4 linked regions of the Homo sapiens genome follow. The protein of the gene in region 1 interacts with the protein of each later gene in a pairwise test. Each region holds a gene or a part of one and is shown in the gene's direction. Other genes may lie near its edges. The genes, in order: TRIM41, PUS7L, FAM9A and SYTL4.

Region 1 (7,027 bases):
TTTTAGTAGAGATGGGGTTTCACCGTGTTGGCCAGGCTGTTCTGAAATTCCTGACCTCAGGTGATCCGCCTGTTTTGGCCTCCCAAAGTGCTGGGATTACAGACATGAGCCACTGTGCCTGGCTACACAAAGATTGTTAAACCTGCCTGATTGTTGGAATTACTAGGGGAGGTTTTCAAAAATACAGTGGATCCTACCACTAGAGTTTCTGAATCAGTGAGTAGGAGAATATCTTTAAAAAGCCCAGTCTAGCATGGGGATCACTGCATTGGTAACATTGCCTAGCTGTTAGTCCCTGCATTTTTAGCAGAGATTGTGAGGTCCTGTTGTCCTTTCCATCTCCTCAGTTCCTAGTTAACCATACCCATCATATCATGTGTGGTCACTTTGTGAACAGGAACCCAGGCCAAACTATCCATGGGCATTCCACCCTTTCTCTTTCACCTCCCCCTGTAGGACTGCTCCAAGGAGCTTCTGAAACTGGATTTTAATTTGCATTAGCCAAATTTGTTCAATGCCAGCTGCCTGAAATCCCGTATTAGGTCCTGAAGTAGGTGAGGAATTAAAAAAAGTCATAATCTCTTTTCTTTTCCCCCCTTTTTTTTTTTTTGAGACAGAATTTCACTCTTGTTGCCCAGGCTGGAGTGCAATGGCACAATCTTGGCTCACCGCAACCTCTGCCTCGGATTCAAGCGATTCTCCTGCCTCAGCCTCCCGAGTAGCTGGGATTACAGGCATGTGCCACCACACCTGGCTAATTTTTTGTATTTTTAGTAGAGACGGGATTTCTCCATGTTGGTCAGACTGATCTCGAACGCCTGACCTCAGGTGATCCGCCCAACTTGGCCTCCCAAAGTGCTAGGATTGCAGGCGTGAACCACTGCGCCTGGCCATACTCTCTTTTCTTGATCTGTTTACTGCGCTCTGCAGTTTGGGAGGCCATATACACATATTTAATCTGACATTAAGTGATGAGTAAATGTAAATACATAGTTTTATTGTATAGGACTAATTTGAGTGATTCCCTTTCTGACTTAATAGGCTATTTTACAAGTGGGTCATTTATTTTTTTATTTTTATTTTTTTTGAGATGGAGTCTCGCTCTGTCGCCCAGGCTGGAGTCCAGTGGCGTGTTCTCGGCTCACTGCAAGCTCCGCATCCCAGGTTCACGCCATTCTCCTGCCTCAGCCTCCCAGGTAGCTGGGACTACAGGCGACTGCCACCACGCCTGGCTAATTTTTTTGTATTTTTAGTAGAGACAGGATTTCACCATGTTAGCCAGGATGGTATCGATCTCCTGACCTTCTGATTTGCCCGTCTCGGCCTCCCAAAGTGCTGGGATTACAGGCGTGAGCACCGCGCCCAGCCACAAGTGGGTCATTTATTCTTTTCAGATATGTACATGCAGTAACCAGTAGCTTGGCAAAATGTTTTGTAAAAATTTTTTTTGTTGAATAGGTAATAACACACAAATGATATGTAAATATAGTTCCTGAACAGTTACATGTTTGTTTTGTTTTTTTTGAGACAGGGTCTCACTCTGGCCAGGCTAGAATGCAGTAGCATGATCATAGCTCACTGCAGCCTTGACCTTCTGGGTTCAGGTGATCCTGAGTAGTAGCTGGGACTGGAGGTGTGTGCCATCATGCCCAGCTAATTTTTTTTTTTTTTTTTTCGTGGAGACAGGGTCTTGCTGTGTTGCTCAGGCTGGTCTTGAACCACTGGCCTCAAGCAATCTTCCCATTTTGGCCCCTCAAAGTGCTGGGATTACTGTGTCTGCCCGACAGTTAAATGTTTTGAAAGTTGGCCGGGCATGGTGGCGGGTGCCTGTAGTCCCAGCTACTCGGGAGGCTGAGGCAGGAGAATGGCGTGAACCCGGGGGCGGTGGAGCTTGCAGTGAGCTGAGATCACGCCACTGCACTCCAGCCTGGACAACAGAGCGAGACTCTGTCTCAAAAAAAAAAAGAAAAAATGTTTTGAGAATTTCTCTTATAACTGGCTGGCTGTGGTGGCTCACGCCTGTAATCCCAGCACTTTGGGAGGCTGAGGCAGGTGGATCACTTGAAGTCAGGAGTTCAAGACCAGCCTGGCCAACATGGTGAAATTCCGTCTCTACTAAAAATACAAAATTAGCCAGCATGATGGCATGTGCCTGTAATCCCAGCTACTCGGGAGGCTGGGGCAAGAGAATCGCTTGAACCTGGGAGGCAGAGGTTGCAGTGAGCCAAGATTGTGCTACTGCATTCCAGCCTGGGCAACACAGCGAGACTCCCATCTCAAAAAAAAAAAAAAAAAAAAAAAGGAAATATATCTTAAATAGAACTCTGTTTGAATTTGTGCTTATTAATTTTTGTTTTTGTCAGCAATTTAGGGTCCCGGCACGGTGGCTCACACCTGTAGTCCCAGCACTTTGGGAGGCAGAGGTGGGCAGATCACTTGAGGGCAGGAGTTAAGACCAGCCTGGCCAACATGGTGAAACCCTGTCTCTACTAAAAATACAAAAATTAGCCAGGTGTGGTGGTGGGCACCTTTAATCTCAGCTACTCGGGAGGCTGAGGCAGGAGAATTGCTTGAACCCAGGAGTTGGATGTTGCAGCGAGCCGAGATGGCACTGCTGCACTCCATTCTAGGCGACAGAGCAAGACTCTGTCTCAAAAAAAAAAAAAAAAAAAAAAAAACAGTAAATGGTAAATTTAAGCGTTATAAATTCTGAATTAATGGAGAAATTATTGACTAGAAAAGTAGAAAGTTATATCAGAAGGCCAAATTTTGTGTAGTTCATGCTATTGTCACGAGTTGACTATAATTCCATTATTACTGTAATTTTGTCTACAACCACTTATCCTGTGCAGCAACTGCTGTTTGCACTCTGGCTTGGTAAACTCTTTAGTTCAGGGGTCATTATCAGGATGTCACTGGCAGCTTAAGGTATAGGGAACAAATATTAGATAACATTTACTGATCTTCTGCTACATGCCAGGCACTGCAGTAAGTGTGCTATCCATGAGGTCCATTCTCTTCTTATTTGAAGCTGAGGAAACTGAAAGCATGGCTTGCCTGAGGTCACTTCACTTCCCTCTGGTCCTGACTGGAGTCAGGCTGGAGCTCTCCTACCCTATATTCTCTCTCAAAGAAAAGGAGACAGGCTAGTAGAAGACATAGAAAAGGTAAGAGCAAATAGGTAGGGCTTATTCCACTCATTCTGGGCTAACAGCCCTTTAAAGAAAAGTATTTGGCTACAAATTGTAGAAACACAGAGCTCGTGTGCCTATTGGCTATAACAGTTACAACCTTTGGAAGAGGGGTTTCGGTGTCCTTTGCCATTTAGCAAGTAATTGAGCAGGAGAGAAAGCAGATGAGCAGAAAGAAGCAAAGAAGTTGAAATAAGTAGAGTGTGGGCAGGGACTCCGCAGTGTCCTGGAGGAGGCACACCTGTCATTGGTGCCCTGGGAACTCATGTATTAGATATTTCTTGGGATCACAGAGGATGTTGGGGGTGGGGAGGATCAGGGCCATTTTCAGGGAGCTGTTTTAAAGGAAGAATACCTTGGGCCAAGTGGAGAAAGGCACTCCCAGACAGAGGGAACAGCATGGAATTATACTCAGGAAATGACAAGTAATTTTATGTGGTCAAACGTGTTAAGAGTCTGTGTGGAAGGCGTTGAGTGTAGAGGTGAGGCTGGAAGTGTGGGGTCAATGTTTTGGAAGTGGTGGTGACCCATGGAAAGGTTTTAGCATAGGAAAAAAATCATCAGAAAAGTATTTAGAGAGAAGAGTTCTGGGGAAGATCGCCTGTGAAGGGGAAGGGGACCAAAGGTGAGGGCACCCCTGGAAAGACTCTGGTGCGGGGCTCAAGCCACTTCCCCTCAGCTGTGAGCGTGGGAGCTCTCTAGTCTTGAGGCTCCTACCTTTAGAGAATACACACAGGGCCGGCCGGGCGCGGTGGCTCACGCCTATAATCTCAGTACTTTGGGAGGCTGAGGTGGACGGATCACGAGGTCAGGAGATTGAGACCATCCTGGGTAGCATGGCGAGGTGAAACCACGTCTCTACTAAAAATAAAAAAATTAGCCAGGCGTGGTGGTGGGCACCTGTAGTACCAGCTACTGGGAAGGCTGAGGCAGGAGAATCGCTTGAATCCGGGAGGTGGAGGTTCCAGTGAGCCAAGATCGTGCCACTGCACTCCAGCCTGAGCGACAGAGCGAGACTCTGTCTCAAAAAAAAAAAAAAAAAAAAAAAAAAAAAATACACACAGGGCTTCTGCAGACGTGCACAGAGGGATTGGAGGCTTTTGTCATCATCTGAAAGAAGAAAGTGGAGGAAGGTATAATACTCACTTGACACCCATTTTCGGGGGTAGGGATCAGGCTTTGACCCATCTTGCTATAGGGAGGATTGCAGAGGTAGGCTCTGAAGGGCAGGTGCCTCTCCCAGCCCCCACTTTTCTTTTTCTGTTTCCTCAGGCCAAACTGCAGGGGCACGTGGAACCACTGAGGAAGCACCTGGAGGCAGTGCAGAAGATGAAAGCCAAGGAGGAGAGGCGAGTGACAGAACTGAAGGTGGGTGAATGTTCTCGACGGGGCTGATGGGCAGTACAGTCGAGGCAAGGAAGGTAGGGCTTCCCACTCTCACAGGGAGTGACTTGGTCCCCTGAGGAGGGGACAGCTAAGGCCTGGGAGAGGGGTAGATGCTTTCCCTAGGTGCTGAGGAGAGCGGGGCCTTAGAGAATCAGGAGGCATGTTCATTCCTGGTTCCAAAATGGAGTGGAAACTGAGGCCTGGATTGGAGGGCCTAGGTGCCTGGCCCAAGGCTGCAGAACAGGCTTTCTACCCGACACCAGAGCCTGAAGGGGGCAAAGCAAAACCCACATAGCAGCCATCAGAGAAGCTGCCGGCCCCAGGATCCATGCAGGCACTGGGCAGAGCAGCCCTAAGCATGAGGCGGACACTGTCCTGGGACACTTGCTGTGTCCTGAGAGGGGGCCAGTGTGTTTAAGCTGGGGCAGGATTTAGTGTATGTTAGCACTGCAGAGACCTAATATTTCCTAGTCTAGTGTTTTCTCAGCACACCCCGACCCCCCCGCTTTTTTTGTTGTTTTTTTCCATTATTGCTCGCCCTTCTCCAAGGAGTCTTTTAAGATACATTTTCCATCCCCACCTCCCGCCTGTTTTCATAACCCCAGCAGGTCCTGCTGGGATGGGCTGGCACTGTGAGCTTCATAGACCAAGCCAGGACCTCCCCTTCTGTCCCTCTTCCCTCCTCCCTTCCCAGCCAGTGCCTGGGCCTTGCCACTACCCAGGGCCCATGCTCACTGCCACCTGAACGTTAGGGACTCTGCTGCTGGCGACTGCTAGGCACTGAATGGTAGGATCTGTCTGGGAGTAGGAAGTCATCGTGCTTCTGGCCAGCTGCCCAAGTTGATACTTTTGGGCTCTCCTGGGTATAGAGGTAACAGGAGCTGTGTGCCCCTGGCATAGAGTGAAGCTGACTGTGGCGGCTGTTCCCTCACGCGTCTGGTCAGTTGGGACCCTCCTCTGGCCTGCTGCTCACAGCGTCTGCAGCCGATGGTAGCTGTGTGAAAAGTGTGCCTACCACCCAGGAAGGGCCATCCCTGGCAAATAGGGTGGGACTGGGCAGGAGTTTTTTCTGTTACAGGATATTAAGTCCCTACATAATATCCTTGATTTTTGCCTCTTAGCCCACAAAGCATAAAAATACTTACTATCTGGACCTTCACAGAAAAAGTTTTTCCGAGTTCTGATCTGGGGCTTTTGGGTGACTTTCTTAAGGTCACTGTGTTTAATGGCGTCGGGACCCTAACTTCATGTTTTGATTCCTGAATTCTTTTATTTATTCATTTCAAAAATTTTTACCAGGTGCCTACTCTGATTGGTACTATGTCAGGGTCCGAGGACCCTGGCAAACAAAGACATTCCTAGTCCCTGTCAGTGGGAGCTCATGGTACAGTGGGGGAAAGGATGTTAACAGTTACGTCATTTAAACACAACGTTTCAATATTATATGTGCCACAGAGAGATACAGTGATATTTGTGGGGATGGTCCCGATTTAGATCTGGAGAGGAGGGAAGGCTTGTCTTGGAATATTTAAGGTTGGACCTGAAGGATGAGTCAACTTAGGTAGAGTCAGGTGGAGAGGAGTGTTCCAGGCAGAGGTTAGTGAGTTTGAGACCACTGTGCTGGGAGCAAGGGGGTGGTATCTGGTAAGGCTGGTAGGGGATGAGCCTCTTTCCGGGACTATCTTGGACCTGGGGAGTGTAGGGCTCCTTTGCCTTGCATTGAGAAGTAGTAGTTGCAAAACTGGAGGTTATCTTCGTACGTGTTGAGGTGGTGTCTGCCATCCCCTTTGCACCATTCCAGAGCCAGATGAAGTCAGAGCTGGCAGCGGTGGCCTCGGAGTTTGGGCGACTGACACGGTTTCTGGCTGAAGAGCAGGCAGGGCTGGAACGGCGTCTCAGAGAGATGCATGAAGCCCAGCTGGGGCGTGCGGGAGCCGCGGCTAGTCGCCTTGCAGAACAGGCCGCCCAGCTCAGCCGCCTGCTGGCAGAGGCCCAGGAGCGGAGCCAGCAGGGGGGTCTCCGGCTGCTCCAGGTGAGCAATGTCCCCTCCCTGTTCCCCCAGCATTCTGTGTTGGCTGTCAGGCAGTGCTTACCAAACGCCTGTCCAGAGCTGCCTCTTTTCTCCCTGGGAGGAACCCACAGTGATTGAACCTGAAGACCAAAAACATGTTTTAAAGCTGGAAACAGAGTTAATGTCGAATGTGGTATGTGTGGCGATTATACCCAGTGAAAAGCATGAAGATTCGGTTGTAGGAGAGGTTTAAATGACAGTTGAGGAAAGTCTTTTTGACAGTGACATCCTGAAAAAGGTGAGCAAGTCGTATTGTGGAAATGACAGTATCCCTGGGCTCACAGCAGGATGAGGCGAGTTAGGTATGGCGAGGCATGGGGTGGTTGAAATGGATGTGTGTTCATTGAGGGCCGTGAGGGTGCTGCTTCTCCCTTCCTGC
Region 2 (6,853 bases), on another chromosome or scaffold:
TCCTGAGCTAGGACCCAACCAAATTCACCTCAGCAACGACTCACAACATTTGTGTTGAATGAAAGGCTGATGACTTTTTAACTTTAATTAAGAAATTGTATCTAGGTTGCCTATAGACTCTGCAGTTGCTCTCTTCAAGTTATTTTTCCTTACTAAGATTTCTCTCTACTGTAAGGTACAACATGATTGACAAAGCTAGACAAGATAGAACTGCTTAGTAGTCTTATAAATTAGAGCAAAATACAAGGAATTGAGGAAAAAACCCAGACTATCTAAAGGCCAGGGATAAATTTGGTAGCTCTCCTGCACCCAGGCTTCCAGCAGAGGTGATAAGTGTAGGGATACTAGGAAAAAGAAGGCCTTCTGCAACTCCTCCACACATGTGCCCAGAAGTTCAAAATCCCAGAAATTAAAATTTTACTTTAAATGTATATTCATATACCACTCCCAACCACATACTTACAAGAACATAAGCCAAAATATTAACGTGGTTATCCCTTGGTGATGACTTTTATGATAGTTTTGTTTTCATTTTGCTTTTCTGAATTTTCAATAATGAAAACAGACTGGGCAAAAAAAAACTTAAAAAGTGTCATCTCTTTCAAATTCTTCAAGATTTACTTTAGTACACTTAGGATTAACACAGGTGGAACAGGATATGTTGCTTACAAATAAGTAAATACCTTCATGACTGTTTCCTCATACCACTAACTCTCATAGTAAAGAAAACCCATTCATATTTTCAAGTAAGACAATTCAGACAAGTGTAAAAGGTGGGGTGGTGATTGAGAAATATATTAAAATAAGCACCTGCTTATGGAATCCAATGCCTTCCCAAAGTACTGTGCCCAAAACAGGAGGGCAAAAGATTCTTGTCAAATGTGTTAATAAAGTTTTAAGACTGCTTCATTAGCACTTTGATCAGAGGAAAAGATTGTGCAGGGGTGGAGGGAAGATGAACTTTGAGGTTGCACAGGCCTAAGTTCTAACCAAAGCCAACTGTGACCAGAGCTAGTAAATACATTTCTCTGCACCTTGCTTTTCTTTATCTGAAAAACAGAGATAGTAATACCTAAGAATTGCTGTAAGAATTAAAATCAACACATGCAAAGGGCCAAATCTTGTCACATAATAATAGGTGGTCAAAAAAAAAAAGGAGCAATTATTATTTCCTGGCAGAAATTATTCTTATATCACATTATTTTTAAAGATATGTGCAGACTGTATTTAGGTTCAATTTCCAGAACAGTAGTGAGGATCTACTGAAAGCGTACAAATAACAAGTCTGAGAAAATAGCTAAGCTTTTGAGATGGTGGCTGTCTTATTTGATCAACCATGGTAATTTTAATGTATTTATATCCTTTCTAAAATACACTATTTACTTCCATATATTCTTAGCAAAATATGCTGTATAACCATTAATCTTTATTTTTAGATACTTTAACATCATCATTATGAACAAAAGCTGGTGAGGGCTTCCAGAGCTATTAAATTAGATAGGGCTGCCTATTACAAACTGGGATATGTGCTGGTGTACCATAAATTAAACTTAACATATCTTTCTTGAACATTGATCCAACACAACAGTAAGTAATTGAAAATGCTTTGCATATATTTAAAAAACAAAATATAATACCATTGACTCACCAAATATTTACTGAGTGTCTACTTTGTGCTAGATACTGCTCCAGGCCCCTGGAGATGAAGCATTAGGAAAATTAGAGAAAAAAAACAAAACAAAACCAAAACCTGAATTCATGGAGTTTATATTCTAATGGAGGAAGGAAGGCAATAAGCAAATAAATAAACTCTATAGTATGTTAGATGGTGCCAAGTGAAATGAAAGAACAAAACGAAATAGAGAAAAGGTTGTAATTATAAATATGGTAGTCACAGGAAGCCTCAATAAGAAGGTGCCATTTGATTAAAGGTCAAAAAGAAGGAGAAAGCCAGCCACTGGACTATCTGTGGGAAAAGTTTGTGGACAAAACGAAATGTAAATGCAAAGGTTGGAACTGGGCCCACTGGGCAACAGCAAGGACATGGTGAGACTGCAGAGGAGGGAACAGGCAAGTAGCAGATGAGGTCAGAAAGGTAAAGGGGCCAGGTCTTCAAGGGCCTTAGAGTTTTTGTATTGACTTTGTTTATCCTCTGGGTGAGATGTAGATGCTGGAAGTTTTGAGAAAAGAGACATGCTCTGTACTCATGTCTTAGAAGGATACTGGGGCTGCTGGGAATAAAGGATGTTGGAGTAAGGACAGAGAAGCAAGAAAGAAGCATTTAGGAGAGCCTACCAATAAGCCAGGTGGGACGTGCTGCAGGCTGGGACCAGGGTCGTAGCAGAGCAAGTGCAGAAGTCCTAGGATTCTGAGGTGGAGCCAATAGAAAGCTATGGGCTGATGTGGAGAGTGAGAAGACAGCATAACCAAGTTTACCGATATTTACTGAGATAGAGAAGGCTGAGGAAGGAGCAAGTTTGGCCTGGAATATCAGAAGCTCAGTTTGGAGAGGTAGAAAGCAAACTTCAAATGAACGCTCTGCAGGAAAACAGAAGAAATTTGAACTTCCCGATAGCCCTCTTCAAGGACCACTCCAAGAAAGGGAAAAGGCAGATTTTAGTATCCTCTGCTTACCAGGGGCCTTGGGCAGTTACGTTTTTGAAGCACTAATAGCGCCGTTTGTTCCCATTCTAAATGCTCAAAGTGCTTTCTCGCTTTCTCAGGGTTTGCTTTTTTTTTTTTTTTTTTCTTTTGAGACGGAGTCTCCCTCTGTTGCCCAGGCTGGAGTGTAGTGGCACGATCTCGGCTCACTGCAACCTCTGCCTCCTGGGTTCAAGCGATTCTCCTGCCTCAGCCCCCGGAGTAGCTGGCATTACGGGCGCCCGCCACTATGCCAGCTAAATTTTGTATCTTAGTAGAGACAGGGGTTTCACCATGTTGGCCAGGCTGGTCTCGAACTCCTGACCTCAAGCGATCCGCCCGCCTGGGCCTCCCAAAGTGCTGGGATTACAAGCATGAGCCACCGCACCTGGACAGGGTTTGCTTTTATCCCTTTGTCTCCCTCTGGCTTCCAAGCTGACAGGTACACTTTTTTCCCCCATCTGCGAATGTACTCATCTGATCCCATAAGCCGCCTCCACTTTCTAATTCCCTGGAAGCTTGGAGGCCGGAGAAACAAGCGAATTACAATCGTGTGGAGGCTCAGCGAGCTGCTGGCGCCACAGGCATCTGTCAGGTGCTGGCCTGACTTCCTGGTTCTGGGGAAAAGAGACTTCATTTCGCAGTCGGGTTCACGGAATCCAGGGCCTGAGAGGTGAGAAACTTGAGGTCCGACTGCGCCCCAGAACAGCTGGGTGACGTCCCTCCAAGCCTCAGGCTCTTCCTCAGGGCCGACGAACTTCTTGATTACCGGGGACCTACCCAAGTCTTTCTTCTGGAGTAAGCTCTGTCAAAGGAACCCACTTCCTCTCTAACTTTTCTCACGGATGATAAAGAGATTTCCGTTCCGCAGCCGACCCCAGCAACCCTGGGGCAGAGGTGCCGAGGCCTGGAAGCGGACCTCGGACGACGTTTGACCGAGGCATTAAGGCGGGGAATGCCTTACCTGCCCGGGCGCGGGCTGCTGAAGCCGGCGACAGAAGAACCAGCCGAACTAGGAAGCGCCGCGAAGGGGCGGGGCCTGCCGGGTTGGCCCCGCCCCACTTCCCCGATGGGCTTCATCTTGGCGCCTCCAGGCGGCTCCACAAAGTGAGAAACTCCACGTATTGCGTAGGGCGCGTCTTTACGTGGGCGCCTGCCCCTTTAATTACGCCCCTGTCGGAGGCTGAAACACTTAAGGCTTCCGGGCATGCGCACAGCGTTGTGCAAATGAATGCCTTCCACTGAACCGAGGTAGACGGGGTCGAGTTTCTTGCGCGATGGTGGGCTTGTATGTGTGTGTGTGTGTGTGTGTGTGGGGGGGGGGGGTGACGAGGTTGGCATTGAGGATCCATACCCTTTGCGCCCAAAGAAAGGTGACGTGGACTAGTGTCGTGCCTTTGGACAGGCAGAGTAAGAGGAGGGAGAAGAAACAGGTAGAGCTGCTGGCCTTGTCGGGGACACCTTTGGACGTGCTGGAGGGCAACGACGCCCTAGTTTTCTGTGAAGTTAAGTAGCTTCTGCAGGACTGGGTTCAGTATTTCTAGTACCTTCTCAGGATCCCTCCTCCGCCAACGAATTCCTCAACCACGGGCCAAGCAAACTACTCCCCCGCCCACTGTCAGCAGCAGTCTCTGTTGAATGGGAATACTGCACCTTCAGGCTTAACGCCACGTGGGCTCCTTTGCTGTCCTCCAGGTCAGTTCCACTCTTCTACCAGGATGCTGGAATTACATTCTCCCCAAGTTTCCCTACCTGTTTCACTTGCTTAGAATGTCTGTCTTCCTCCTTTTTTCTGGGAGAAAGAAAAGATCATTATTCTTTCAGGGCCAATCCCTACAGCTATGTTCTTGACCATGCTGTTTTGTTTTTGAACTCCTCTAACTGTTACTCCATCGGATACATCTTGCTCATTTCCATCAGAATCATCTTACAATTCCAAAAGCATGTTTTGGAATTGTGTCACTTTTCTACTCAAACACTAACAGTAGCCATCCATTGACCACCCAATAGATTCTAAGTCCTTGTCAGGGCATTCAACATCTTCCATAATCTGGTACTAACTCAGCTACATTTTCCAGCACTGTAGTCTCCCTGCATTCCCATCCCCACTGCTCTGTATCTGGACTGCTTGTTTTTCTTGCACACATTGCATGTTTTGTTTGTACATTACTTGTGAGGTCTCTGCCTCATTTCTATCTCTTGAACTATGGAGGACTTAGATGGCCACTTCTTGCATTATGCCTCTTCTAATTATCTTCCACTTCATTCCTACAGCTCTTATTTTGTACTAGTTATTTCATTTATTTAACAATAGTATTTATTGCAGACCTACCATGTGCTTGACACTGTTCAAAATGTGTGATCATCAGTAGTAAATAAGGCAGACAAGGTTACTCCTCACGTGGAACTAACATTCTCTTTGGAGGAGATATACAATAAATAATAAAGAAAAACTTTACCTAGAACTGCTATGCAGAAAATTAAATAGGGTTTTGTGAAAGAGAATCACTTGCTGGGCACGGTGGCTCACGCCTGTAACCCCAGCACTTTGGGAGGCCGAGGCGGGTGGATCACGAGGTCAGGAGTTCAAGACCACCCTGGCCAATATGGTGAAACCCCATCTCTACTAAAAAAATACAAGAATTAGCCGGGCGTGGTGGCGCGCCCCTGTGGTCCCAGCTACTCGGGAGGCTGAAGTAGGAGAATCGCTCGAACTCGGGAGGCGGAGGTTGCAGTGAGCCGAGATCATGCCACTGCACTCCAGCCTGGACGACAGAGTGAGACTTCGTCTCAAAAAAAAAGAGAATCACTTGCAGGTTCCTGTAGATTATTGGTCAGGAAAAACTTCTCTGAGGAAATGAATCCTAAAAGATGCAGCTATATGATTGGGGAGGGAACAATTTAAACAACAGGAACAGTTAGCACAAAACTATTGAAGAAGGCCAGAGTAGCTGGAGTATAGTGGGTAATGGGGTAAAGGTACAAATGAGTTTGGAGAATAAGCAGGGTCCCTAATCTTAGATGTCCTTGGAAGCCAGGGTGAGTAATTTGGATTTTATTGCAAATGTGACTAGAGGGTTTTAAACTGGATTGTGATATGATTTAATTTACCTTTTAAGACCATTCTGGCTGGTTTGTGGGCTAGTTATAGAAGCAGGAGTTAGGGACCTTCACAATATCTAAAAGTTTTTGGAATGGAAGTATTAAAGTTGGTGTGATAAAGGACATTGGGAGTCATAAGAATCAGATGCTTAAGGTTAATGCAGTTTTTGGAGATGAGAAAGTCAAAGTTATGACCGTGACAGTGGATGACCAAGATGAAGTAGAGGTGTGAGGTTGAGGTTGAGATTGAGGACTTGAGGGTCCAAGACATTGAATGGATGATCCATATAGATGATCATAAAAATCATGTTGGATAAGAAGGTAGTGAGCCAGAGATCAGTGAATGAAGCAGAGTTGTCTGGGGATCCGAGAGAGGATGACAGCAGATGGTAAAGCCCAATGGCAGGCTCTTCAAAAGAATTGGGGTTTTTGGAGGTAGTAGAGGAAGAAATGGCTTGCAACGAACAGTGACAAACATAGACCAATATTTACAGCCTCCAGGTCCTAAGGTAGATGGGTGGGAAAGAAAAAATAGCCTTTACTTGAGAGGACTGAAGAAGAAGCAGCCTGAAGAAATAGCCAGATTTCAATTAGGGCAAGAAAGTGAGGGAACTGTACAGGAAATTAAGTAATTAAGGAAAGTAAGTATATCTTATATATTCCTTAGGAAATTAGGATATGGAGAATTTGTAGTGATTTCTATATGGCATGATGGAAAGGATTGAGAAGGTGTGATTTGCTAAATTGGTTCAGATTAGTAGAATACATTATAGGTATGAGATGATGGTCCAGATGATGATAAGTTACTTGGAGAATGTGGGGGAAACACAGAACTCACTAGTATGGGGCCCCTGGGCAATTTATCTTTCCTGCAGCTCCATATGGTATGGTAGCCATGGGTTTGTGTGAAAAGTGAGAGATCAGAGTACTATTCTCTTGCATAGTGTTTCCAGGAAGCTCTGTAAGGGTTTCTTCTGTCTGATGCCAATGATATAGTTAGAACTTTCCTCTGGCTCAACCTTGAAAGCTTCTATTTGTCCTAATGGGGGCATTAGAGAAGGCCCAGGACTGACTTAATCCTACCTTGAAATATAATCAAATCACAAATTTG
Region 3 (7,027 bases), on another chromosome or scaffold:
TTGCTGAAAAAGATGAACACACGGGGTAAAGTGTTTAAGTCACTTTTGCCTGTCGGATAGGGTCTTTTAGGAAAAGTCAGCTTTGGTTCATGTCATCACTATTCTATTCTATGCGGAACATTTCACATAAGACATATCTTCCCAACAAACATGGCATTTTGTGTAGCATTATGATAAAATTTTGATGTAACTTTTTTTACAGGATTCATACCATGAAGCTAGAACATATTGCAGGTATGTTTTAGGAGCTATTCGTAGTCTTTGAAAATTATTTTCAACCATACAACTGTTATAGTAGGTTATATGAATTAGTGGACGACGAGACTGTCTTAACATGCCTTCTTCTCATATATAGCATTTAACATATGTATTTAATGTAATGCGTTTAATAAATTTTCATACTTACCTTTTGGATTGTTGATGTGGAATGTGAGAATGCTTCTAACAATGGTGAAGTGAGAGGGATGGCTTTTCTTTCATACACATGGAAATTTAATTATTTGGGGGATATTAGAGGACACTGGAGGAGAAACAGCTCTATTGGTTCCTTTTAGTGTACACAGATTAAGTATATATATCAGGTTTTTTTATCTTTTATTTTAGGTTTGAGGGTACATGTGCAGGTTTGTTATATAGATAATTGCGTGTCACAGGGGTTTGGTATACAGATTATTTATCACCCAGGTTATAAGCATAGCACCTGATGGGTGGTTTTCATCCTCACCCTCCTCCTACCCTCCAACCTCAAGTAGGCCCAGGTGTCTTTTGTTCCCCTCTTCCTGTCCGTATGTACTCAAGAGTTTTTAATATGAGTTTTTATGTTCCTAATTTAGCTATTCTATTGTCACAGCTTTCTGATTTTGTTTTCTTTAAAGTACAAGAGAAAATTGAATTATCTAAAATGATGATATTCTATTATTATTCCAGTAATAAACTGTGTACTAGAAAAGGAAAGACAAGTTTTCTACCCAGTGAGAAACATGTAATTGGATCCAAAAACTCATAAATTTTGTATTGCCATGTGAACTGTTAGTTGCACTGACTGTTATAGGACCATATTTTCAAAAAAAAATTGAGAAAATTTCTGTAGAGACGGCGGAGACAATACTCTTATTTTTAAAACGCTCAATTCAGTTTTCAGCTCTTCTCTAGCGATAATTCATACAAGCAGTATATTTGGAAAGCTTTGCTCTGCTTGGTGAGTAAGTGCTGGTTTTGTGAGCTACCTAACTGAGCATTATAGATGGAGAATGTAAAAAATATTTGTATTATGGTGCAGATCTTTTATGATTGCTGAAAACTATTTTTAGCAATTGATGGTAGATCTCTGATGTGAAACCATGTTTAGGAAAGCATTCCTTGCAGTAGGACAGTTTTCTGAAACACAGCACTGTGGATAAAAATGTCATATAAAAAGCTCCAAGAAAATATTTCAAAAGTGTTTTTGAATGTATTTCTTTACTTAAGCCTAAATTTTTATACCCATGGACGATGCTTCTTTTATTAAAATACAGTTAATAGCATCAATCACCAGATTGCTTAAAAAATGCTCTTCTTATTGTGTACTAAGTTATTTCTACCCTTTTGATGGTCTTATTAAATAAGATACTTTTCTGTATGTTTTACATAATGAATTGTGACAGTATTTCATGGAAACATGTCCTTTGAATTACAGGACATTTTATAAATGTAGAAATTAGAGTCTGTGTTTGTAACGCTTTCTGCACATTTAAAAAATCGAAAATTACTTGCTTTTTTTCATCATCCATAAATTAAGTGATTTGCAGTTATACCAATTGGAATTAGAGTACTAATATTAATACGTAAAAGGTTTTACAGAAAACAAGTGAGTAAATCTTGCTTTTTGAAATGATCTTTGTATTTTACAATGTAAATGTCCTTCCGATATTGCTGAACCATCATATCTCACGTTGATTTCAATATATGCGAAGAAACCACTTTTCAACATTAACTTTTAATGCATTTTCATTTACTATCTAGCTGACATTAAAAAGGGCCTTGCTGCAAAAAGAGAAATGATAAAAATAGATAAAGCAGCTTACAGGAAAACCAAGAACACAATTGAACGTGCTTTGAAAAAAAAACAACTAAAAAGGTATGATTGTTGGCTTTTTTGCATAATGATATTTATATCATTTCTTTGTATTTGTTGGTGCAAATAATTTCAAAAACTGTCCTGTACATATTGGCGTCTCTAGGGAGCAACATATTTTACTTGATTGTTCCCTAAGCAGGTAAGTTTCTTTTGTTTTATAACCTCAGTTTAACAGAATTGAGGCATATTATCTAGAAAGCCAATGAAGATGACCTCTTTTTGCCTTCCAGATAAAAATAGTCTTCCTGTAAAATTAATTTTTATCCATTTCTAGAAATATGGCAGCTGCATATAAGATAAATGTCTTCAACGTTTAGTCTGTAGATCCTTAACAATATTAAGTTATGTGGAAAGGGACAACCTTATGTTGTAAATATGTTATCTATTTTAGTTAAATTGTTTTCACTATTCCTTTTAGAAAATCATTGTTGTGCCAAAGTGGAGAAAGAGTTAAGTGAAGTATTTCTTTTGGGAAATCTTACAGGATGAATGGCTATGATATTCTTGAACCTACTTATGAGAACCCATATGTTATTTAGTTTGAGGAAATGAAAAGTAAACTGCTGTTAGAGAAAATTATTGTTTCTGGGAAATTTATAGTGCAGTAAACTCTCCTTTGTTTTCAGCACATAAAGAATGTAAGATAGCTGCTCTAGTAGTCAGTTAGGAAGGGATCCTTTCAGAATGACAGTAACTCATTTCACCTTTTCCCAAAAAGAAGATTTCAGCTGCTATTACTCCCTTGCTACTTTATAGTATAAATTATGTGAAGTCAGTTTTGGTTTGAATAGGATTAATTTTTCATCTCTCTATGACATATGACCGTATTACTTATTATGTGTTACAGGCAGAAACGTGATTATAGACATACTCGGAAGTTGCTGAATGTCCTTAAAGAATACATCGCAGAGAAGCAGAAAGATGATGAAGCAGAAGAAGCAGAAGCCGCAGCAGCAGCAGCAGAAGCCGCAGCAGCAGCAGAAGCCGCAGCAGCAGCAGCAGAAGTAATAGTAGTAGAAGACGAAGAGGAGGAAGAGAAGGAGGAGGAGGAGGAGAAAGAAGAGGAGGAAGAAGAAGGAGAAGAAGAAGGAGGAGGAGAAGAAGGAGAAGAAGGAGGAGGAGGAGGAGAAGGAGAAGAAACAGAAGAAGAGGAAGAGGAAGAAGAAGAAGAGGAAGAGGAAGAACAAATTGTTGGTATCAGGCTTAGCTTTATGATTAACCTATTGTATCAATGTCTCAGGTAGTAATAGTTCATGCAGAAATCCAGCAAAGAAGGAAGAGAGCATGAGCCCAGAGAGGGGGGCCCATAAGTGGACTCATGTACTAGGGGAATATAATTGCCACGCAGCATTAGGGGTCCAACTGAGGTCAGCATCATAGCGATAAAGAAGTTAAAGTGAGCCCGGTTGGCATATTTGTGCAAAAGCAGCTGTAGGGTTGGAATTTCCTGGGTTGGGGTGTAGCTGCGCACGTTGATAGAAGGAGAGTTGGGCAGGGCATAGATGCAGGGATGGGGATATGATGACTGGCTGTGGAATTTCAGCTGGGACTGAGTTACCTGAGCACATGGGGGTGGGCAATGGGCAGTGAAAAGTGTTCCATTCAGTGGGTGTCGGGTCTCAACAGACTCCTGAGCTGTAGTACTGAAGTGAGTGACCTACAGTGGCAGGAAGGTAGTGGCTGTATGTTGGGAAGATGGAGAAACAGCTGAGTGCAGTGGTCAAGGGCTGGGACACTGCAGCCCCACTGCTTGTAATTCAACTCCAGCTTGACGATTGCTAGCTCGGGAACCATGGGCAAATTATTTATCTCTGTGCCGAAATTTCCTTATCTGCAAAAGGAGACACGGTAAGAGAACTTATGTCAGAGTTATTTGGAGGATTGAAAGGTTCCTGTGTAATGGGTTTATTTAAATTTTTCAGGATGTGATCTGACCCATGATTGCTCTTTATCATTGCTATTATTAATATTATGTAGATGTTGCAGTCATTGGGAATGATAAAATCTAGGGGATGACTGTATAAGTGAGTGCCACGTAGAGGAGAGGAGAACACTGTTGTTGGAGATTAGGTCAAGGTGCAGAAAGGCAATCATTATTGGAAGGTTCATCCGTGTGCATACTGAAATGACCAAGATTTATTACCTGTTTAAAATCTTAGTAAGAAAGAATGTTTCTTAGTTAATTTCTGTATATATCTTACCCATCTGTGGTCAACAAATTATAGGAAGGGTCGTCAAATACTCTACATTCAAAATCAAGAATTAAGACATATGTGTTGATTATGTATGTAGAAGAAAGAAAATTCCTTAATCACTGATGAAAAAGGTTATTATATCATTTTAGCATATGGGTGGTGAACACAGTTGTTTAAAATTGGTCATAAACATTGTTTAAAAGAAAGTGTTAAGAAGTATAGATTTAAAGAGTATTCCTATAAAGCTAATGCAGAATTATGTTTTGTAAGTATTAAAAATTACCCAATTTTCATCACTATTTTTTTGTGCTTCTAGAAAGCATTTCAAGAAAAACAGAAGAGGTGGCAACAACCTACAGGTGTTAGGAGCTGGAGGCTGAGAGAGATGAAGCCGCTACTTGAGCAATTACTAAAGGTCTGTTCTATTTGGTAACATAATACATTATAAAATACAACACGTGCATAACAGAAGAAAGTCTGTTTGTTTCCGAATGTATGGAAAGACATTTTGGTTATGCATTTTAAATTACTTACCATTTTCACTTTGAATGTATTGTTCCAAATTTAACATAACTGGTAAATGTATTTTTAGGATTCGTGAATAGTTTTGTGGGAGTTATTTAGAACAGGAAAAGGTAAATTGGAAATTTTACCTGGAAATATACATCTTGTGTATATTGTTAACGCATTGACACATTTATGCCGGAGGCTGCACATTTTTTGTGTGTGAAGAAACAGACCTTGGCTATGTTCTTGAGCGGTAGGAGATACATGATTCCCACAAGCTTAGCGTTCCAATAATGGAACACTAGGCATAAATGGGTTTTAATGAAGATTTTATTTTCAGTTTTCAGGACATCAATGACACATCTATGGTGGAAGGCAGGAAGACCATAAATCCTTTCTGGATGTCTTTTTTACTTGTGTTGTTTCAAGAGTTTTAGTTAAATAGGAAGTAGGCAAGTGTAACTACTGAGTGTCTCTTTTATTTCCTGCTGTAATACAGGAGTGTTTTATGGCATATTCACTTTCAAAATTATCAGCGACTAGTAATGGTTTTACATGACAATTTGTAGTCATAAGAGATGGTTCAGATGTATAACAGAATGGGAAAGCCAGCAAATTATTAACACGTTGTGAATTGTGAATTATCTGCTGTCGTATAGCACATTAGCAAATTGTCATCAATGACCTCTTCTTCATGTAGATGTACATTATTTAGGTAACAATGGAATTCCCTTCTGGGAGGTAAGGTATTCTTTTTAATAACCTTGTGAAAAGACATGTTCATATGTCACTCCTCTACACTAACTGAGATGTGTTAAATAAACTGAGAAAAGAGTTTGAAAATAAAATTTTCAAGCAACTTGAGAATGATCTATACACAAAACAGTTATTTAAATAGAAGTCACAAGTAGAGAAAATGTTGCTATAATGTTCACCAGAAACCATTTATTAATTGGTATGAACATGAGACTAGAAGTTTTCCTGTCAATGTTAATGCTACATGTTACCACTTAGGGTAGGAACTTTGCTATCATCTTGGACTCTTCTAAGTCCCTTATCCTTCCCATGCAGTTATCATGAGGCAAGTTTTACCTCTGTAATGGCCCTTAAATTTCTTTTTTTAAAATTCCCACCGCAGCTGCCCTAGTTCAAGACCTCATTCTTCCTTGCTTGTACTATTAAACTCTTTTCTGAGTTCTCTCTTCTCTTCTGAGCCATCCTTCATTGATCGGCAATATTATCTTCCTAAAACCCTCCCCTTCCTAAAATGCTTCCTAGCCCTTCCCTCTTCCCAGCCTGTCAGTGATGCCCCGTCTCAGTTCTTAGATATTCAGAGACTCTCCCCTTTACATGACCCCCTCTTAGGCTTGCCGCCCTCTGTCTTTGCTCCTGCCTATCCAGGTTGACAGCTTTCCCTGAAGGAATTCACTGTTACTCTTATGCTTTTCTCATGCTCTTCCCTCACAATGCTTTAAAAAAATTTTTTTTTGACTAAGACCAATTTAAACCTTTTGCCAACTAAGTCAACATACGTCTCCATTTTTGGCTACATGTCTGAGTGAGTTGCCCTTCCATAGCAGTTATACAATTTTTGTATTAATTTTTTTTATTTGTGCATTTGCTCATGTCACAGGATTATGGAAGAGATTGTGCTTACATTTTTTACATCTTCCTTAGCATTAACATACACCATTTTCAGGAGTAGGAACTGTTGAACTATTTGTTGAGGGAATAGTATATATTTCAAACATAGTTACATTTTTCTCTAACTTGATGAGGTCATATCACCAACCATTTTATCCCTTCAATGGAAACCACTTTCCGTAGACTATTGCTGATAATACATGGGTCACTACCTGCTGAAAAAATATATTTCATGGTAAGCCTGCCTGACTTTTTCTGTCTTTGCTCCATCTTGACCTTAAGATGCTCATCAACCCATTTTATTCAAGCAAAGTACATGACAATTGGACCTGCTAAAATAATATTTCACTGAAATCTGGCATTAAAAAATTTAAGTGGGTATTTGGAGCTCCATGTATTGGTTACAGTTTTTTTCAAATTGAAATAAATAACCAGCATCCTTTGAATATTAAAAGCTGTTTCCTTTTGACATCTGATTAACCCTGTTTAAAACGTGAGATGTAAAGTGGTGGTTTGTCAGTGAACTAGACTTTTTCTTTTAGGCTGCCAAGGACACTAAAGACAA
Region 4 (7,027 bases), on another chromosome or scaffold:
CCTGCACCCATCAACCCGTCATCTACATTAGGTATTTCTCCTAATGCTATCCCTCCCCTAGCCCCCCACCCCCGACAGGCCCCGGTGTATGATGTTCCCCTCCCTGTGTCCATGTGTTCTCGTTGTTCAACTCCCGCTTATGAGAGAACATGCGGTGTTTGGTTTTCTGTTCTTGTGATAGTTTGCTGAGAATGATACAAACCACCTTTTCTAAAATATATTTTTATGGGCATGGGTCCCACAAGGATGCTATATTAAGATACTTCATCTGAGTCTTGACACCTCAGGACTAACACAGAACAAGTTGTCCATCTGAGCTCAGATTCTGACACTCATGTTACCTGAGCCGTGGTCTTCTCAATAGATAATCTTGCCTTTTTGACTGTACACCTGGGACTGAATGTAATGAAGGGTCTTAAGTTTTCTTGGGCTTTGGTTTCTCTATTAAACCCTAGTAGCCATAAATTGGGAGTATCCGATTAGTCATAGCTTTTCTAACTTCACATCTATCTGGTTTTCTTATTATAACTGTATTTGTGCCTCCATTATTTTCCTGAGTTCTAGTTTTCAAAATATGATGTACTATTTACCATAAAAATATATCACTTGGTTTATTGCATATGAAAGCTGTATTTTTCTTTCATATTTTCCTTTTTGAATTTCTAGAGAACATTCTATGCCATAGTATGGGGAGTAGTGATGGTAGTGAGGTAGGAGGCAGGTATTTTCCTCTAAGATGTTAAGGATAGATTTAGTACCATTATGATCTCTTCTTTGACATGTGGGTTATTTAGAAGTGTCTTTATAAATTTTAAAAAAAAGTATTGTGATAAGAAATTACCTTATTTTAAATTGATTTCTTATTTAATTTAATTTCCTCGAAGTCAGAGACTGGTCTGTATGGGAAGGATTTTTTAAAAAAATTATGCAGACTTGCATTACAGCCTAGTACATGGTCAGTTTTGGGAGTAAATATTCTATATGTGCTTGAAAATAATGTAATTCTCCAGTTGGATATAGACTTTTTTTGTATTCCTATTAAATCAAGCTCATTTTGTTGTTCAACTTGTCTATATATTTACTAGTTTGTATCTGCTTGTACCATTCATAATTGCAACAACAAAGAAGTATATGTTAACCTCTCATTTTGATGGTTGATTTTTCAATTTCTCTCTTTTGTTCCTTTGTATATTTAGTGATGTTTTATTAGTGGGTGCATATTTATTATCTCTATGTAGTGATCTTATCTAACCTTTATAAAGCTTTTATTGTCTTTTTTACTTTTAGATATTAATATAGCTACCTCAGCTTTCTTTTGGCTAGCATTTACCTGGTATATCTTTTCCTATCTTTTTACTTTCAATTTTCCCTTCAATTTATGTTTTAGATGTGTCTCTCATAAATGGCACATAACTGGATTTTTTCCTTTTATCCAGTCTGTTAATTCCTGTATTTCAAAGGGTGAATTTTGCTCATATATGAGTTTCATATTCATTGATATACTTGAACTTGTTTTTACCATTTTACCTTTTGTTTTCTCTTTGTCTCAGTTTTTTCTGCACTTACCTTTGTCTTCTTGCCTTTTAATTTTTGTTCTTAATTTGTTTTCTGCTCCTCATTACTGATTCTGCAAGATCCCATTGCAAACAAGCTGGCTGTTAACAGGGTTAGTGTTGGAAACAACAGCAACCTATGGTGGAAGGTGGGGCTTGGGGTGGGATATGGCTTTTCTGAAAGGAGTCAGATTGGCAAGTGATGGGGAAGAGGAGGCAGGGAGCTGATAGAGTCCATGTCTGATGGTCTTACAAAAACCTTTTTACAAGTATGAGACAAGCATGTCTGATGGGACTGGAGGGAAGGGAAGTGGGAGTGTGAGATGAATGAAGGCTTGAATAGAACCCAAAGGGACTAGGTAAAGGAATTGAACAAGCATAAGTAACAGAATTTATGGGTGACAATGAGGGTTCAGCTGAGGTTGTAGACCAGGAATTATGTAGAACCTGGGTATAGGAGCAGACAAGGCAGGCTAGAGCATTAGCACAGGTTTGGGATTTTCATGGGCAGTTGTGGCAGAGGGATGAAGGTATATGGATATGGAAGGTACTGGTGAGAGTGGTTCAAATGTTGAGCCATCTGGAGTCCAGGATGGGTATGGGGGGAAGATAGATCAGCAGAAGGCAAGTGGACCAAGAGACAATGTGGGGCTCAAGAGACTGTGGTCTTGATAAAGTTGAAGAACAGATAGAGCAGGAGTGAGCTGTGGTTGGAAAGTGGGAATTCTTGAATTTAAGATTTCAGAGGGGGCAGTTCTGGTTGGTCAGGTCCATAAATGAAAAAGAAAGGGCAGATGTACAATATTGGTAGTTCCATTTTCTTAAGATACTATCTTTATTTCCTCAAGGATCTTCTTACTTCCCTGGATTTTGATATTACTTGGTCTCATTATTATGCCAACGTGCCTTTCTCATCACAATATTCTGCTGCCTCTCCACAAGCACCAGTTTTTAAATCTGATATGGTTCTCATTTCTAGTGTGCCTGTGCTATCCTTGCTTTTTAGCTGACAGGTAACTGATAATACCTCTTTTATCCAGGAGCCACTGATTTTTTTGCGCAGTGTTTCAGCCGTAATCACACATATGGGAATTCATTTCCACAATGCTTTTGATTTGTCTGTTTAGTACTTTATAGTTGCTTTGGTTATAATTCTGCCTAGACTGAGCCTGTAGAGCACCAACTCTGGTATCAGATTGCCTGGGCTTGAATCCCTGCAATTTCACTTACTTGCTCTTTATTCTTGGGCAAGTTAGCCTAACCTCTCCTGAATCCTAATCTATACAATGGGGGTAATAATAGTCACTCATTCTTGGTATTGTGGCAAGGATTAAATTAGTTAATATATGTTAGGTACTTGTTTGGCGTATAGTCAATTCTCAATAAAAGATACTGTTGGGGTGACAATGACAGTGATTGCAATATTGGCAGCATATGCAAAATTGCGTACCAGATATTGCATTAAGTGCTAGGGCAGATACAGAGGAGAAGATTGAAAAAGTCCTTGTTTTCATGGAGGGTATATATTCTCCTTGGGGATAAGAACTAAGAACACTTCCTCAAGACTGTCTAAGAAAGGGTGTGTGCAAGAGGCTTAACATCTTATAGTTCAATAAAGACCAGGAAATATACAAGTTGAGGAAATATTGAGGTTTCAGGAACCTGTATAGCTTTGCCGTGTTGTTTATGTTCTCCACTGTTTTGTAGGGAACTAGTAAAAAAAGAAAAAGAAAAAATAAAGTGAAAGAGGCGTGTTGTCTAGTTTCAAAGGAGAGGAGAGAAGGTAAGTGTGATTCTCATTTCCTTTTTCACTCTCTGTCTACCTTGGGCTCTTTGACTCCCATGACTACCAAGTGTATATTATCAGATACATTTTTTCTTCCTGAGGTCCAGCCCTGTGTCTCCAACTATTTCCTGGGCCCAGTTACCTGGATATCAAGTATGCAACACTAACTTAATAGGGTTAAAACAAAACTTTTTGCCTTACTTCCAAACCTGTTTCTTTCCTTACATCTTCTATTGCTATGAGGGCTGTCACTAGCCAGTCAGTTGTTTAATCTTGACTGTGAACTAGGCATCTTTGACTTCACCTTCTTCATCCTCTCTGCTCAGTCAGTCTCCCTATTCTGTCAATTCTACTTCTCAAACCTATTCTGTTTTTTCTTGCTGCCTGGCTCAGGCCTTTATCATTTTAGAAGATTCAGCAAGTATTTGTACTCCAAACATTGTGATTGGCCCTTTAACACACATTATTTAATTTTTTAAACAACGTTTGAGGTGGGTCGTTTTGTAGATGAGAAACCAAAGAGTCAGAAATAAAATGACTTCTGCTGGGCACGGTGGCTCTGTCTATAGTTCCAGCTACTTGGGAGGCTGAGGCAGGAAGATCACTTGAGCCCAGGAATTTGAGTCCAGGCTGGGCAACATAGTGAAACTCTGTCTCTAAAAATGAAAAATAAAATGAAATGAAAAATAAAATGACTGGTCTAATTGTTTAGAGGCACAGTTAGTAAATCTAGATTGTCTTTTGCTGCAGTATTGTAATAATATCTCTGCCTCATTTGTATTGTTTTCTTTTTTGAGATATAAATGGAAGATATATGTAAAAACAAATTAGAACTATGTGAAGTAAAAAGTGAAAGTTGCCCCTTCCCAATTCTACTCCCCAAGGGAAACCAATGATAGTGGCTTTTGTTCTAGACCTTTCTCTTTGCATATACAAATATTTAGATAAATTCTTTATAAAAGATCATTTTTTATTGTCCTACAACTACTTTTTCACTCATGGCCATATTTTTATGTCAGTACGTGTGTATCTACCACATTTTTAATGGCGACATAATGTTCCATTATGGGGACATATTATTTTGTTTAATGATTCCTATGTTAAATAACTGTTTCTGTTCTTACAAATAATGTTGCAGTAATAGTCTTGTGCATATACTCTTGCTTGTGCATTTGTATGAATATTTCTATTAGGTAAATTCTTAGAAGTCATATTGCTTGGTTAAGTATATGCCTATTTTAAATGTATGTACTACCAAATTGTCCTCTGATTTGTCCTCTAAATCAGTCTTTCATATTATAACTAGAGCGATATAGCTATAATATGTCTTTGTAAAGTGAATTTCATCATGTGATTTCCCAGCATCAAAAAGCAACATCAGAGATGTTTGGTGGATTTCTATTGTCTATGCAGTAAATTTTAAAATTAAAAAAAATTTTTTCCAGACAGGATCTTGCTTTGTTGCCCAGGCTAGAGTGGGCCACATGTGATGGCGTGATCTCAGCTCACTGTAGCCTCAACCTCACAGGCTCAAACAATCCTCCCACTTCAGCCTCCCGAGTAGCTGGGAATGCAGCCGTGTACCATCATGGCTAGCTAAGTTTTGATTTTTCTTTTTGTAGAGACTGAGTCGCCCTGTGTTGCCCAGGCTGGTCTTGAACTCCTAGGCTCAAGAGATCCTCCTGCCTCAGCCTCCCAAAGTGCTGGGATTACAGGTGAGAGCCTCCATGCTGAGCCAAAATTCTTAAAATTTTAAAAAAGTTTTTAAGAGTTATGTAATCTGGTCCCAAACTATCTTTCCTACCATTCTTCCCTACCAGGAAATTTGTCCTCTGATAAGGCAAAATCCACCTCTTCTGTGAAATTTCCCATGTATACTGCTCTCTTTCCTCTCTCTATGCAAGATAGAATGAGTTGCTTTCTTCCCTAAGTTCTCATAGCACTTAATTTATAGTCCCTTATAATCCCTCTGATAGCACTTAATGCGTTGTACTGTATTTATGTGTGTCTGTCTCCCCTGCTACTCTGTGATTTTCATAAGGGTAGGAACTGTGCCTTACTCATCTTTGTATCCCCAGCACTTTACACAATGCCTGTCAGCGTAGTGCTCAACAAGTGTTCATGAATTTGGGAAAGATATCCTGGAGGTAGTGCTAGAGTGCTAGTATGATAAGAACTTTGAGAGATAGAGTAGGGGGTGGAAGTTTTGAAGTATAGCAGAAAGCTGACTGACTCCTGGGAGAATGGAAGCTGGTTAGGAATAGACAACTGGGCTTAAACTGGCAGGAGCCTTCATGTGCTTTTCTCCTTCACTGCAGAGACCAGCTGCCTGGTTATTTGGGTTAATAGGCTTGAGATTTGAGAACATTTAAAGTATTAAAAATTGGATGATTGAGGACTCACTTGGTGGAGGGGGAGATTGACTCAGCTGTTCTATGTTCTTTCCAGACTAAGATGCATATACTGAATAACCAATCCTTTTCCCAGAGTCACGAATAACTTTTTCTTTCTGAAAAATCAAGGACTCTTCATTTTCAGGGCATGTTTCGGATGGGAGTAGGAAGACTAAATAGGTCAGATACTTCTACTTTGTCTCTTTAGCTTGGCTCAAGGGGAAAGGAACCTATTGAAAGGGTTTAGGGCTGTGGGCCTATTCTTGAGTAAATCATCTGTGTGAAATTAGTTCTTTTGTCATTTCAGGCAACTCTGGTAGCTCTCCTTGTCTGGTTGTTTTGAAGAAAGAAGAGTAGAAGAAAAAGTTGAGTAAATCATGTCGGAGTTACTGGACCTTTCTTTTCTGTCTGAGGAGGAAAAGGATTTGATTCTCAGTGTTCTACAGCGAGATGAAGAGGTCCGGAAAGCAGATGAGAAAAGGATTAGGTAAGAGTTCCCCAAAACGCATGGGGTCCCAGGCCTTTGACCAATGATGTCTGGGCTTTTCCTTATGTCTCCCACCTGACTTTCATAGGAATTTGTATATGTGATGTTTACCACTACTTATTGGGTCACGCTGGGCTCTGAGTTTGTTGCTTCCACAGAACCAAATAGTCTTACTGTCTTTACCTCTCAACCCCTCTCCATCCAATCTATGCATATCCTGAATCCACTTACGCTTCTGTTTTGGGTCTTGGCAGGCGACTAAAGAATGAGTTACTGGAGATAAAAAGGAAAGGGGCCAAGAGGGGCAGCCAACACTACAGTGATCGGACCTGTGCCCGGTGCCAGGAGAGCCTGGGCCGTTTGAGTCCCAAAACCAATACTTGTCGGGGTTGTAATCACCTGGTGTGTCGGGACTGCCGCATACAGGAAAGCAATGGTACCTGGAGGTGCAAGGTGTGCGCCAAGGAAATGTGAGTGTCACCTATGGCTGAGTAGAGAGGGGGCGAGGCCTTGGCCGTGGTGAGAATTTCTTTCCTCAGCCTTTATTAGACAAGAACCATTCTTTATCCATCTGTCATTTTCTTTTATTTCTTCCCAGAGAGTTGAAGAAAGCAACTGGGGACTGGTTTTATGACCAGAAAGTGAATCGCTTTGCTTACCGCACAGGTAGTGAGATAATCAGGATGTCCCTGCGCCACAAACCTGCAGGTACTGGACCTGTCTAGAGATGGTTCTTGGTATGGAATCCTAGTGTATTCTGACTGGTAGCATCTTAACTCCATGGGCTCAGCCAGTTAGTGGAGAATAG

Evidence for each region.
Region 2: the proteins of TRIM41 (region 1) and PUS7L interact in binary tests that used the Homo sapiens proteins (3 or more experiments, as listed by UniProt).
Region 3: the proteins of TRIM41 (region 1) and FAM9A interact in binary tests that used the Homo sapiens proteins (3 or more experiments, as listed by UniProt).
Region 4: the proteins of TRIM41 (region 1) and SYTL4 interact in binary tests that used the Homo sapiens proteins (3 or more experiments, as listed by UniProt).

The regions. Positions count from the first base shown.
Region 1 is NC_000005.10:181,226,281-181,233,307, forward strand, and holds part of TRIM41 (E3 ubiquitin-protein ligase TRIM41), read left to right. Parts: intron 1-4,463; coding exon 4,464-4,559; intron 4,560-6,378; coding exon 6,379-6,609; intron 6,610-7,027.
Region 2 is NC_000012.12:43,755,768-43,762,620, reverse strand, and holds the start of PUS7L (pseudouridylate synthase PUS7L), read left to right. Parts: upstream 1-3,830; 5' UTR 3,831-3,871; coding exon of another isoform or gene 3,872-3,891; exon of another isoform or gene 3,892-3,917; coding exon of another isoform or gene 3,918-3,928; exon of another isoform or gene 3,929-4,335; intron 4,336-6,853. UniProt on the Homo sapiens protein: Pseudouridine synthase that catalyzes pseudouridylation of mRNAs.
Region 3 is NC_000023.11:8,791,357-8,798,383, reverse strand, and holds part of FAM9A (protein FAM9A), read left to right. Parts: coding exon 1-25; intron 26-202; coding exon 203-234; intron 235-2,001; coding exon 2,002-2,116; intron 2,117-2,963; coding exon 2,964-3,306; intron 3,307-4,627; coding exon 4,628-4,726; intron 4,727-7,004; coding exon 7,005-7,027.
Region 4 is NC_000023.11:100,701,120-100,708,146, reverse strand, and holds part of SYTL4 (synaptotagmin-like protein 4), read left to right. Parts: intron 1-3,260; 5' UTR 3,261-3,336; intron 3,337-4,961; 5' UTR 4,962-5,054; intron 5,055-6,039; 5' UTR 6,040-6,109; coding exon 6,110-6,219; intron 6,220-6,473; coding exon 6,474-6,689; intron 6,690-6,817; coding exon 6,818-6,927; intron 6,928-7,027. UniProt on the Homo sapiens protein: Modulates exocytosis of dense-core granules and secretion of hormones in the pancreas and the pituitary. Interacts with vesicles containing negatively charged phospholipids in a Ca(2+)-independent manner.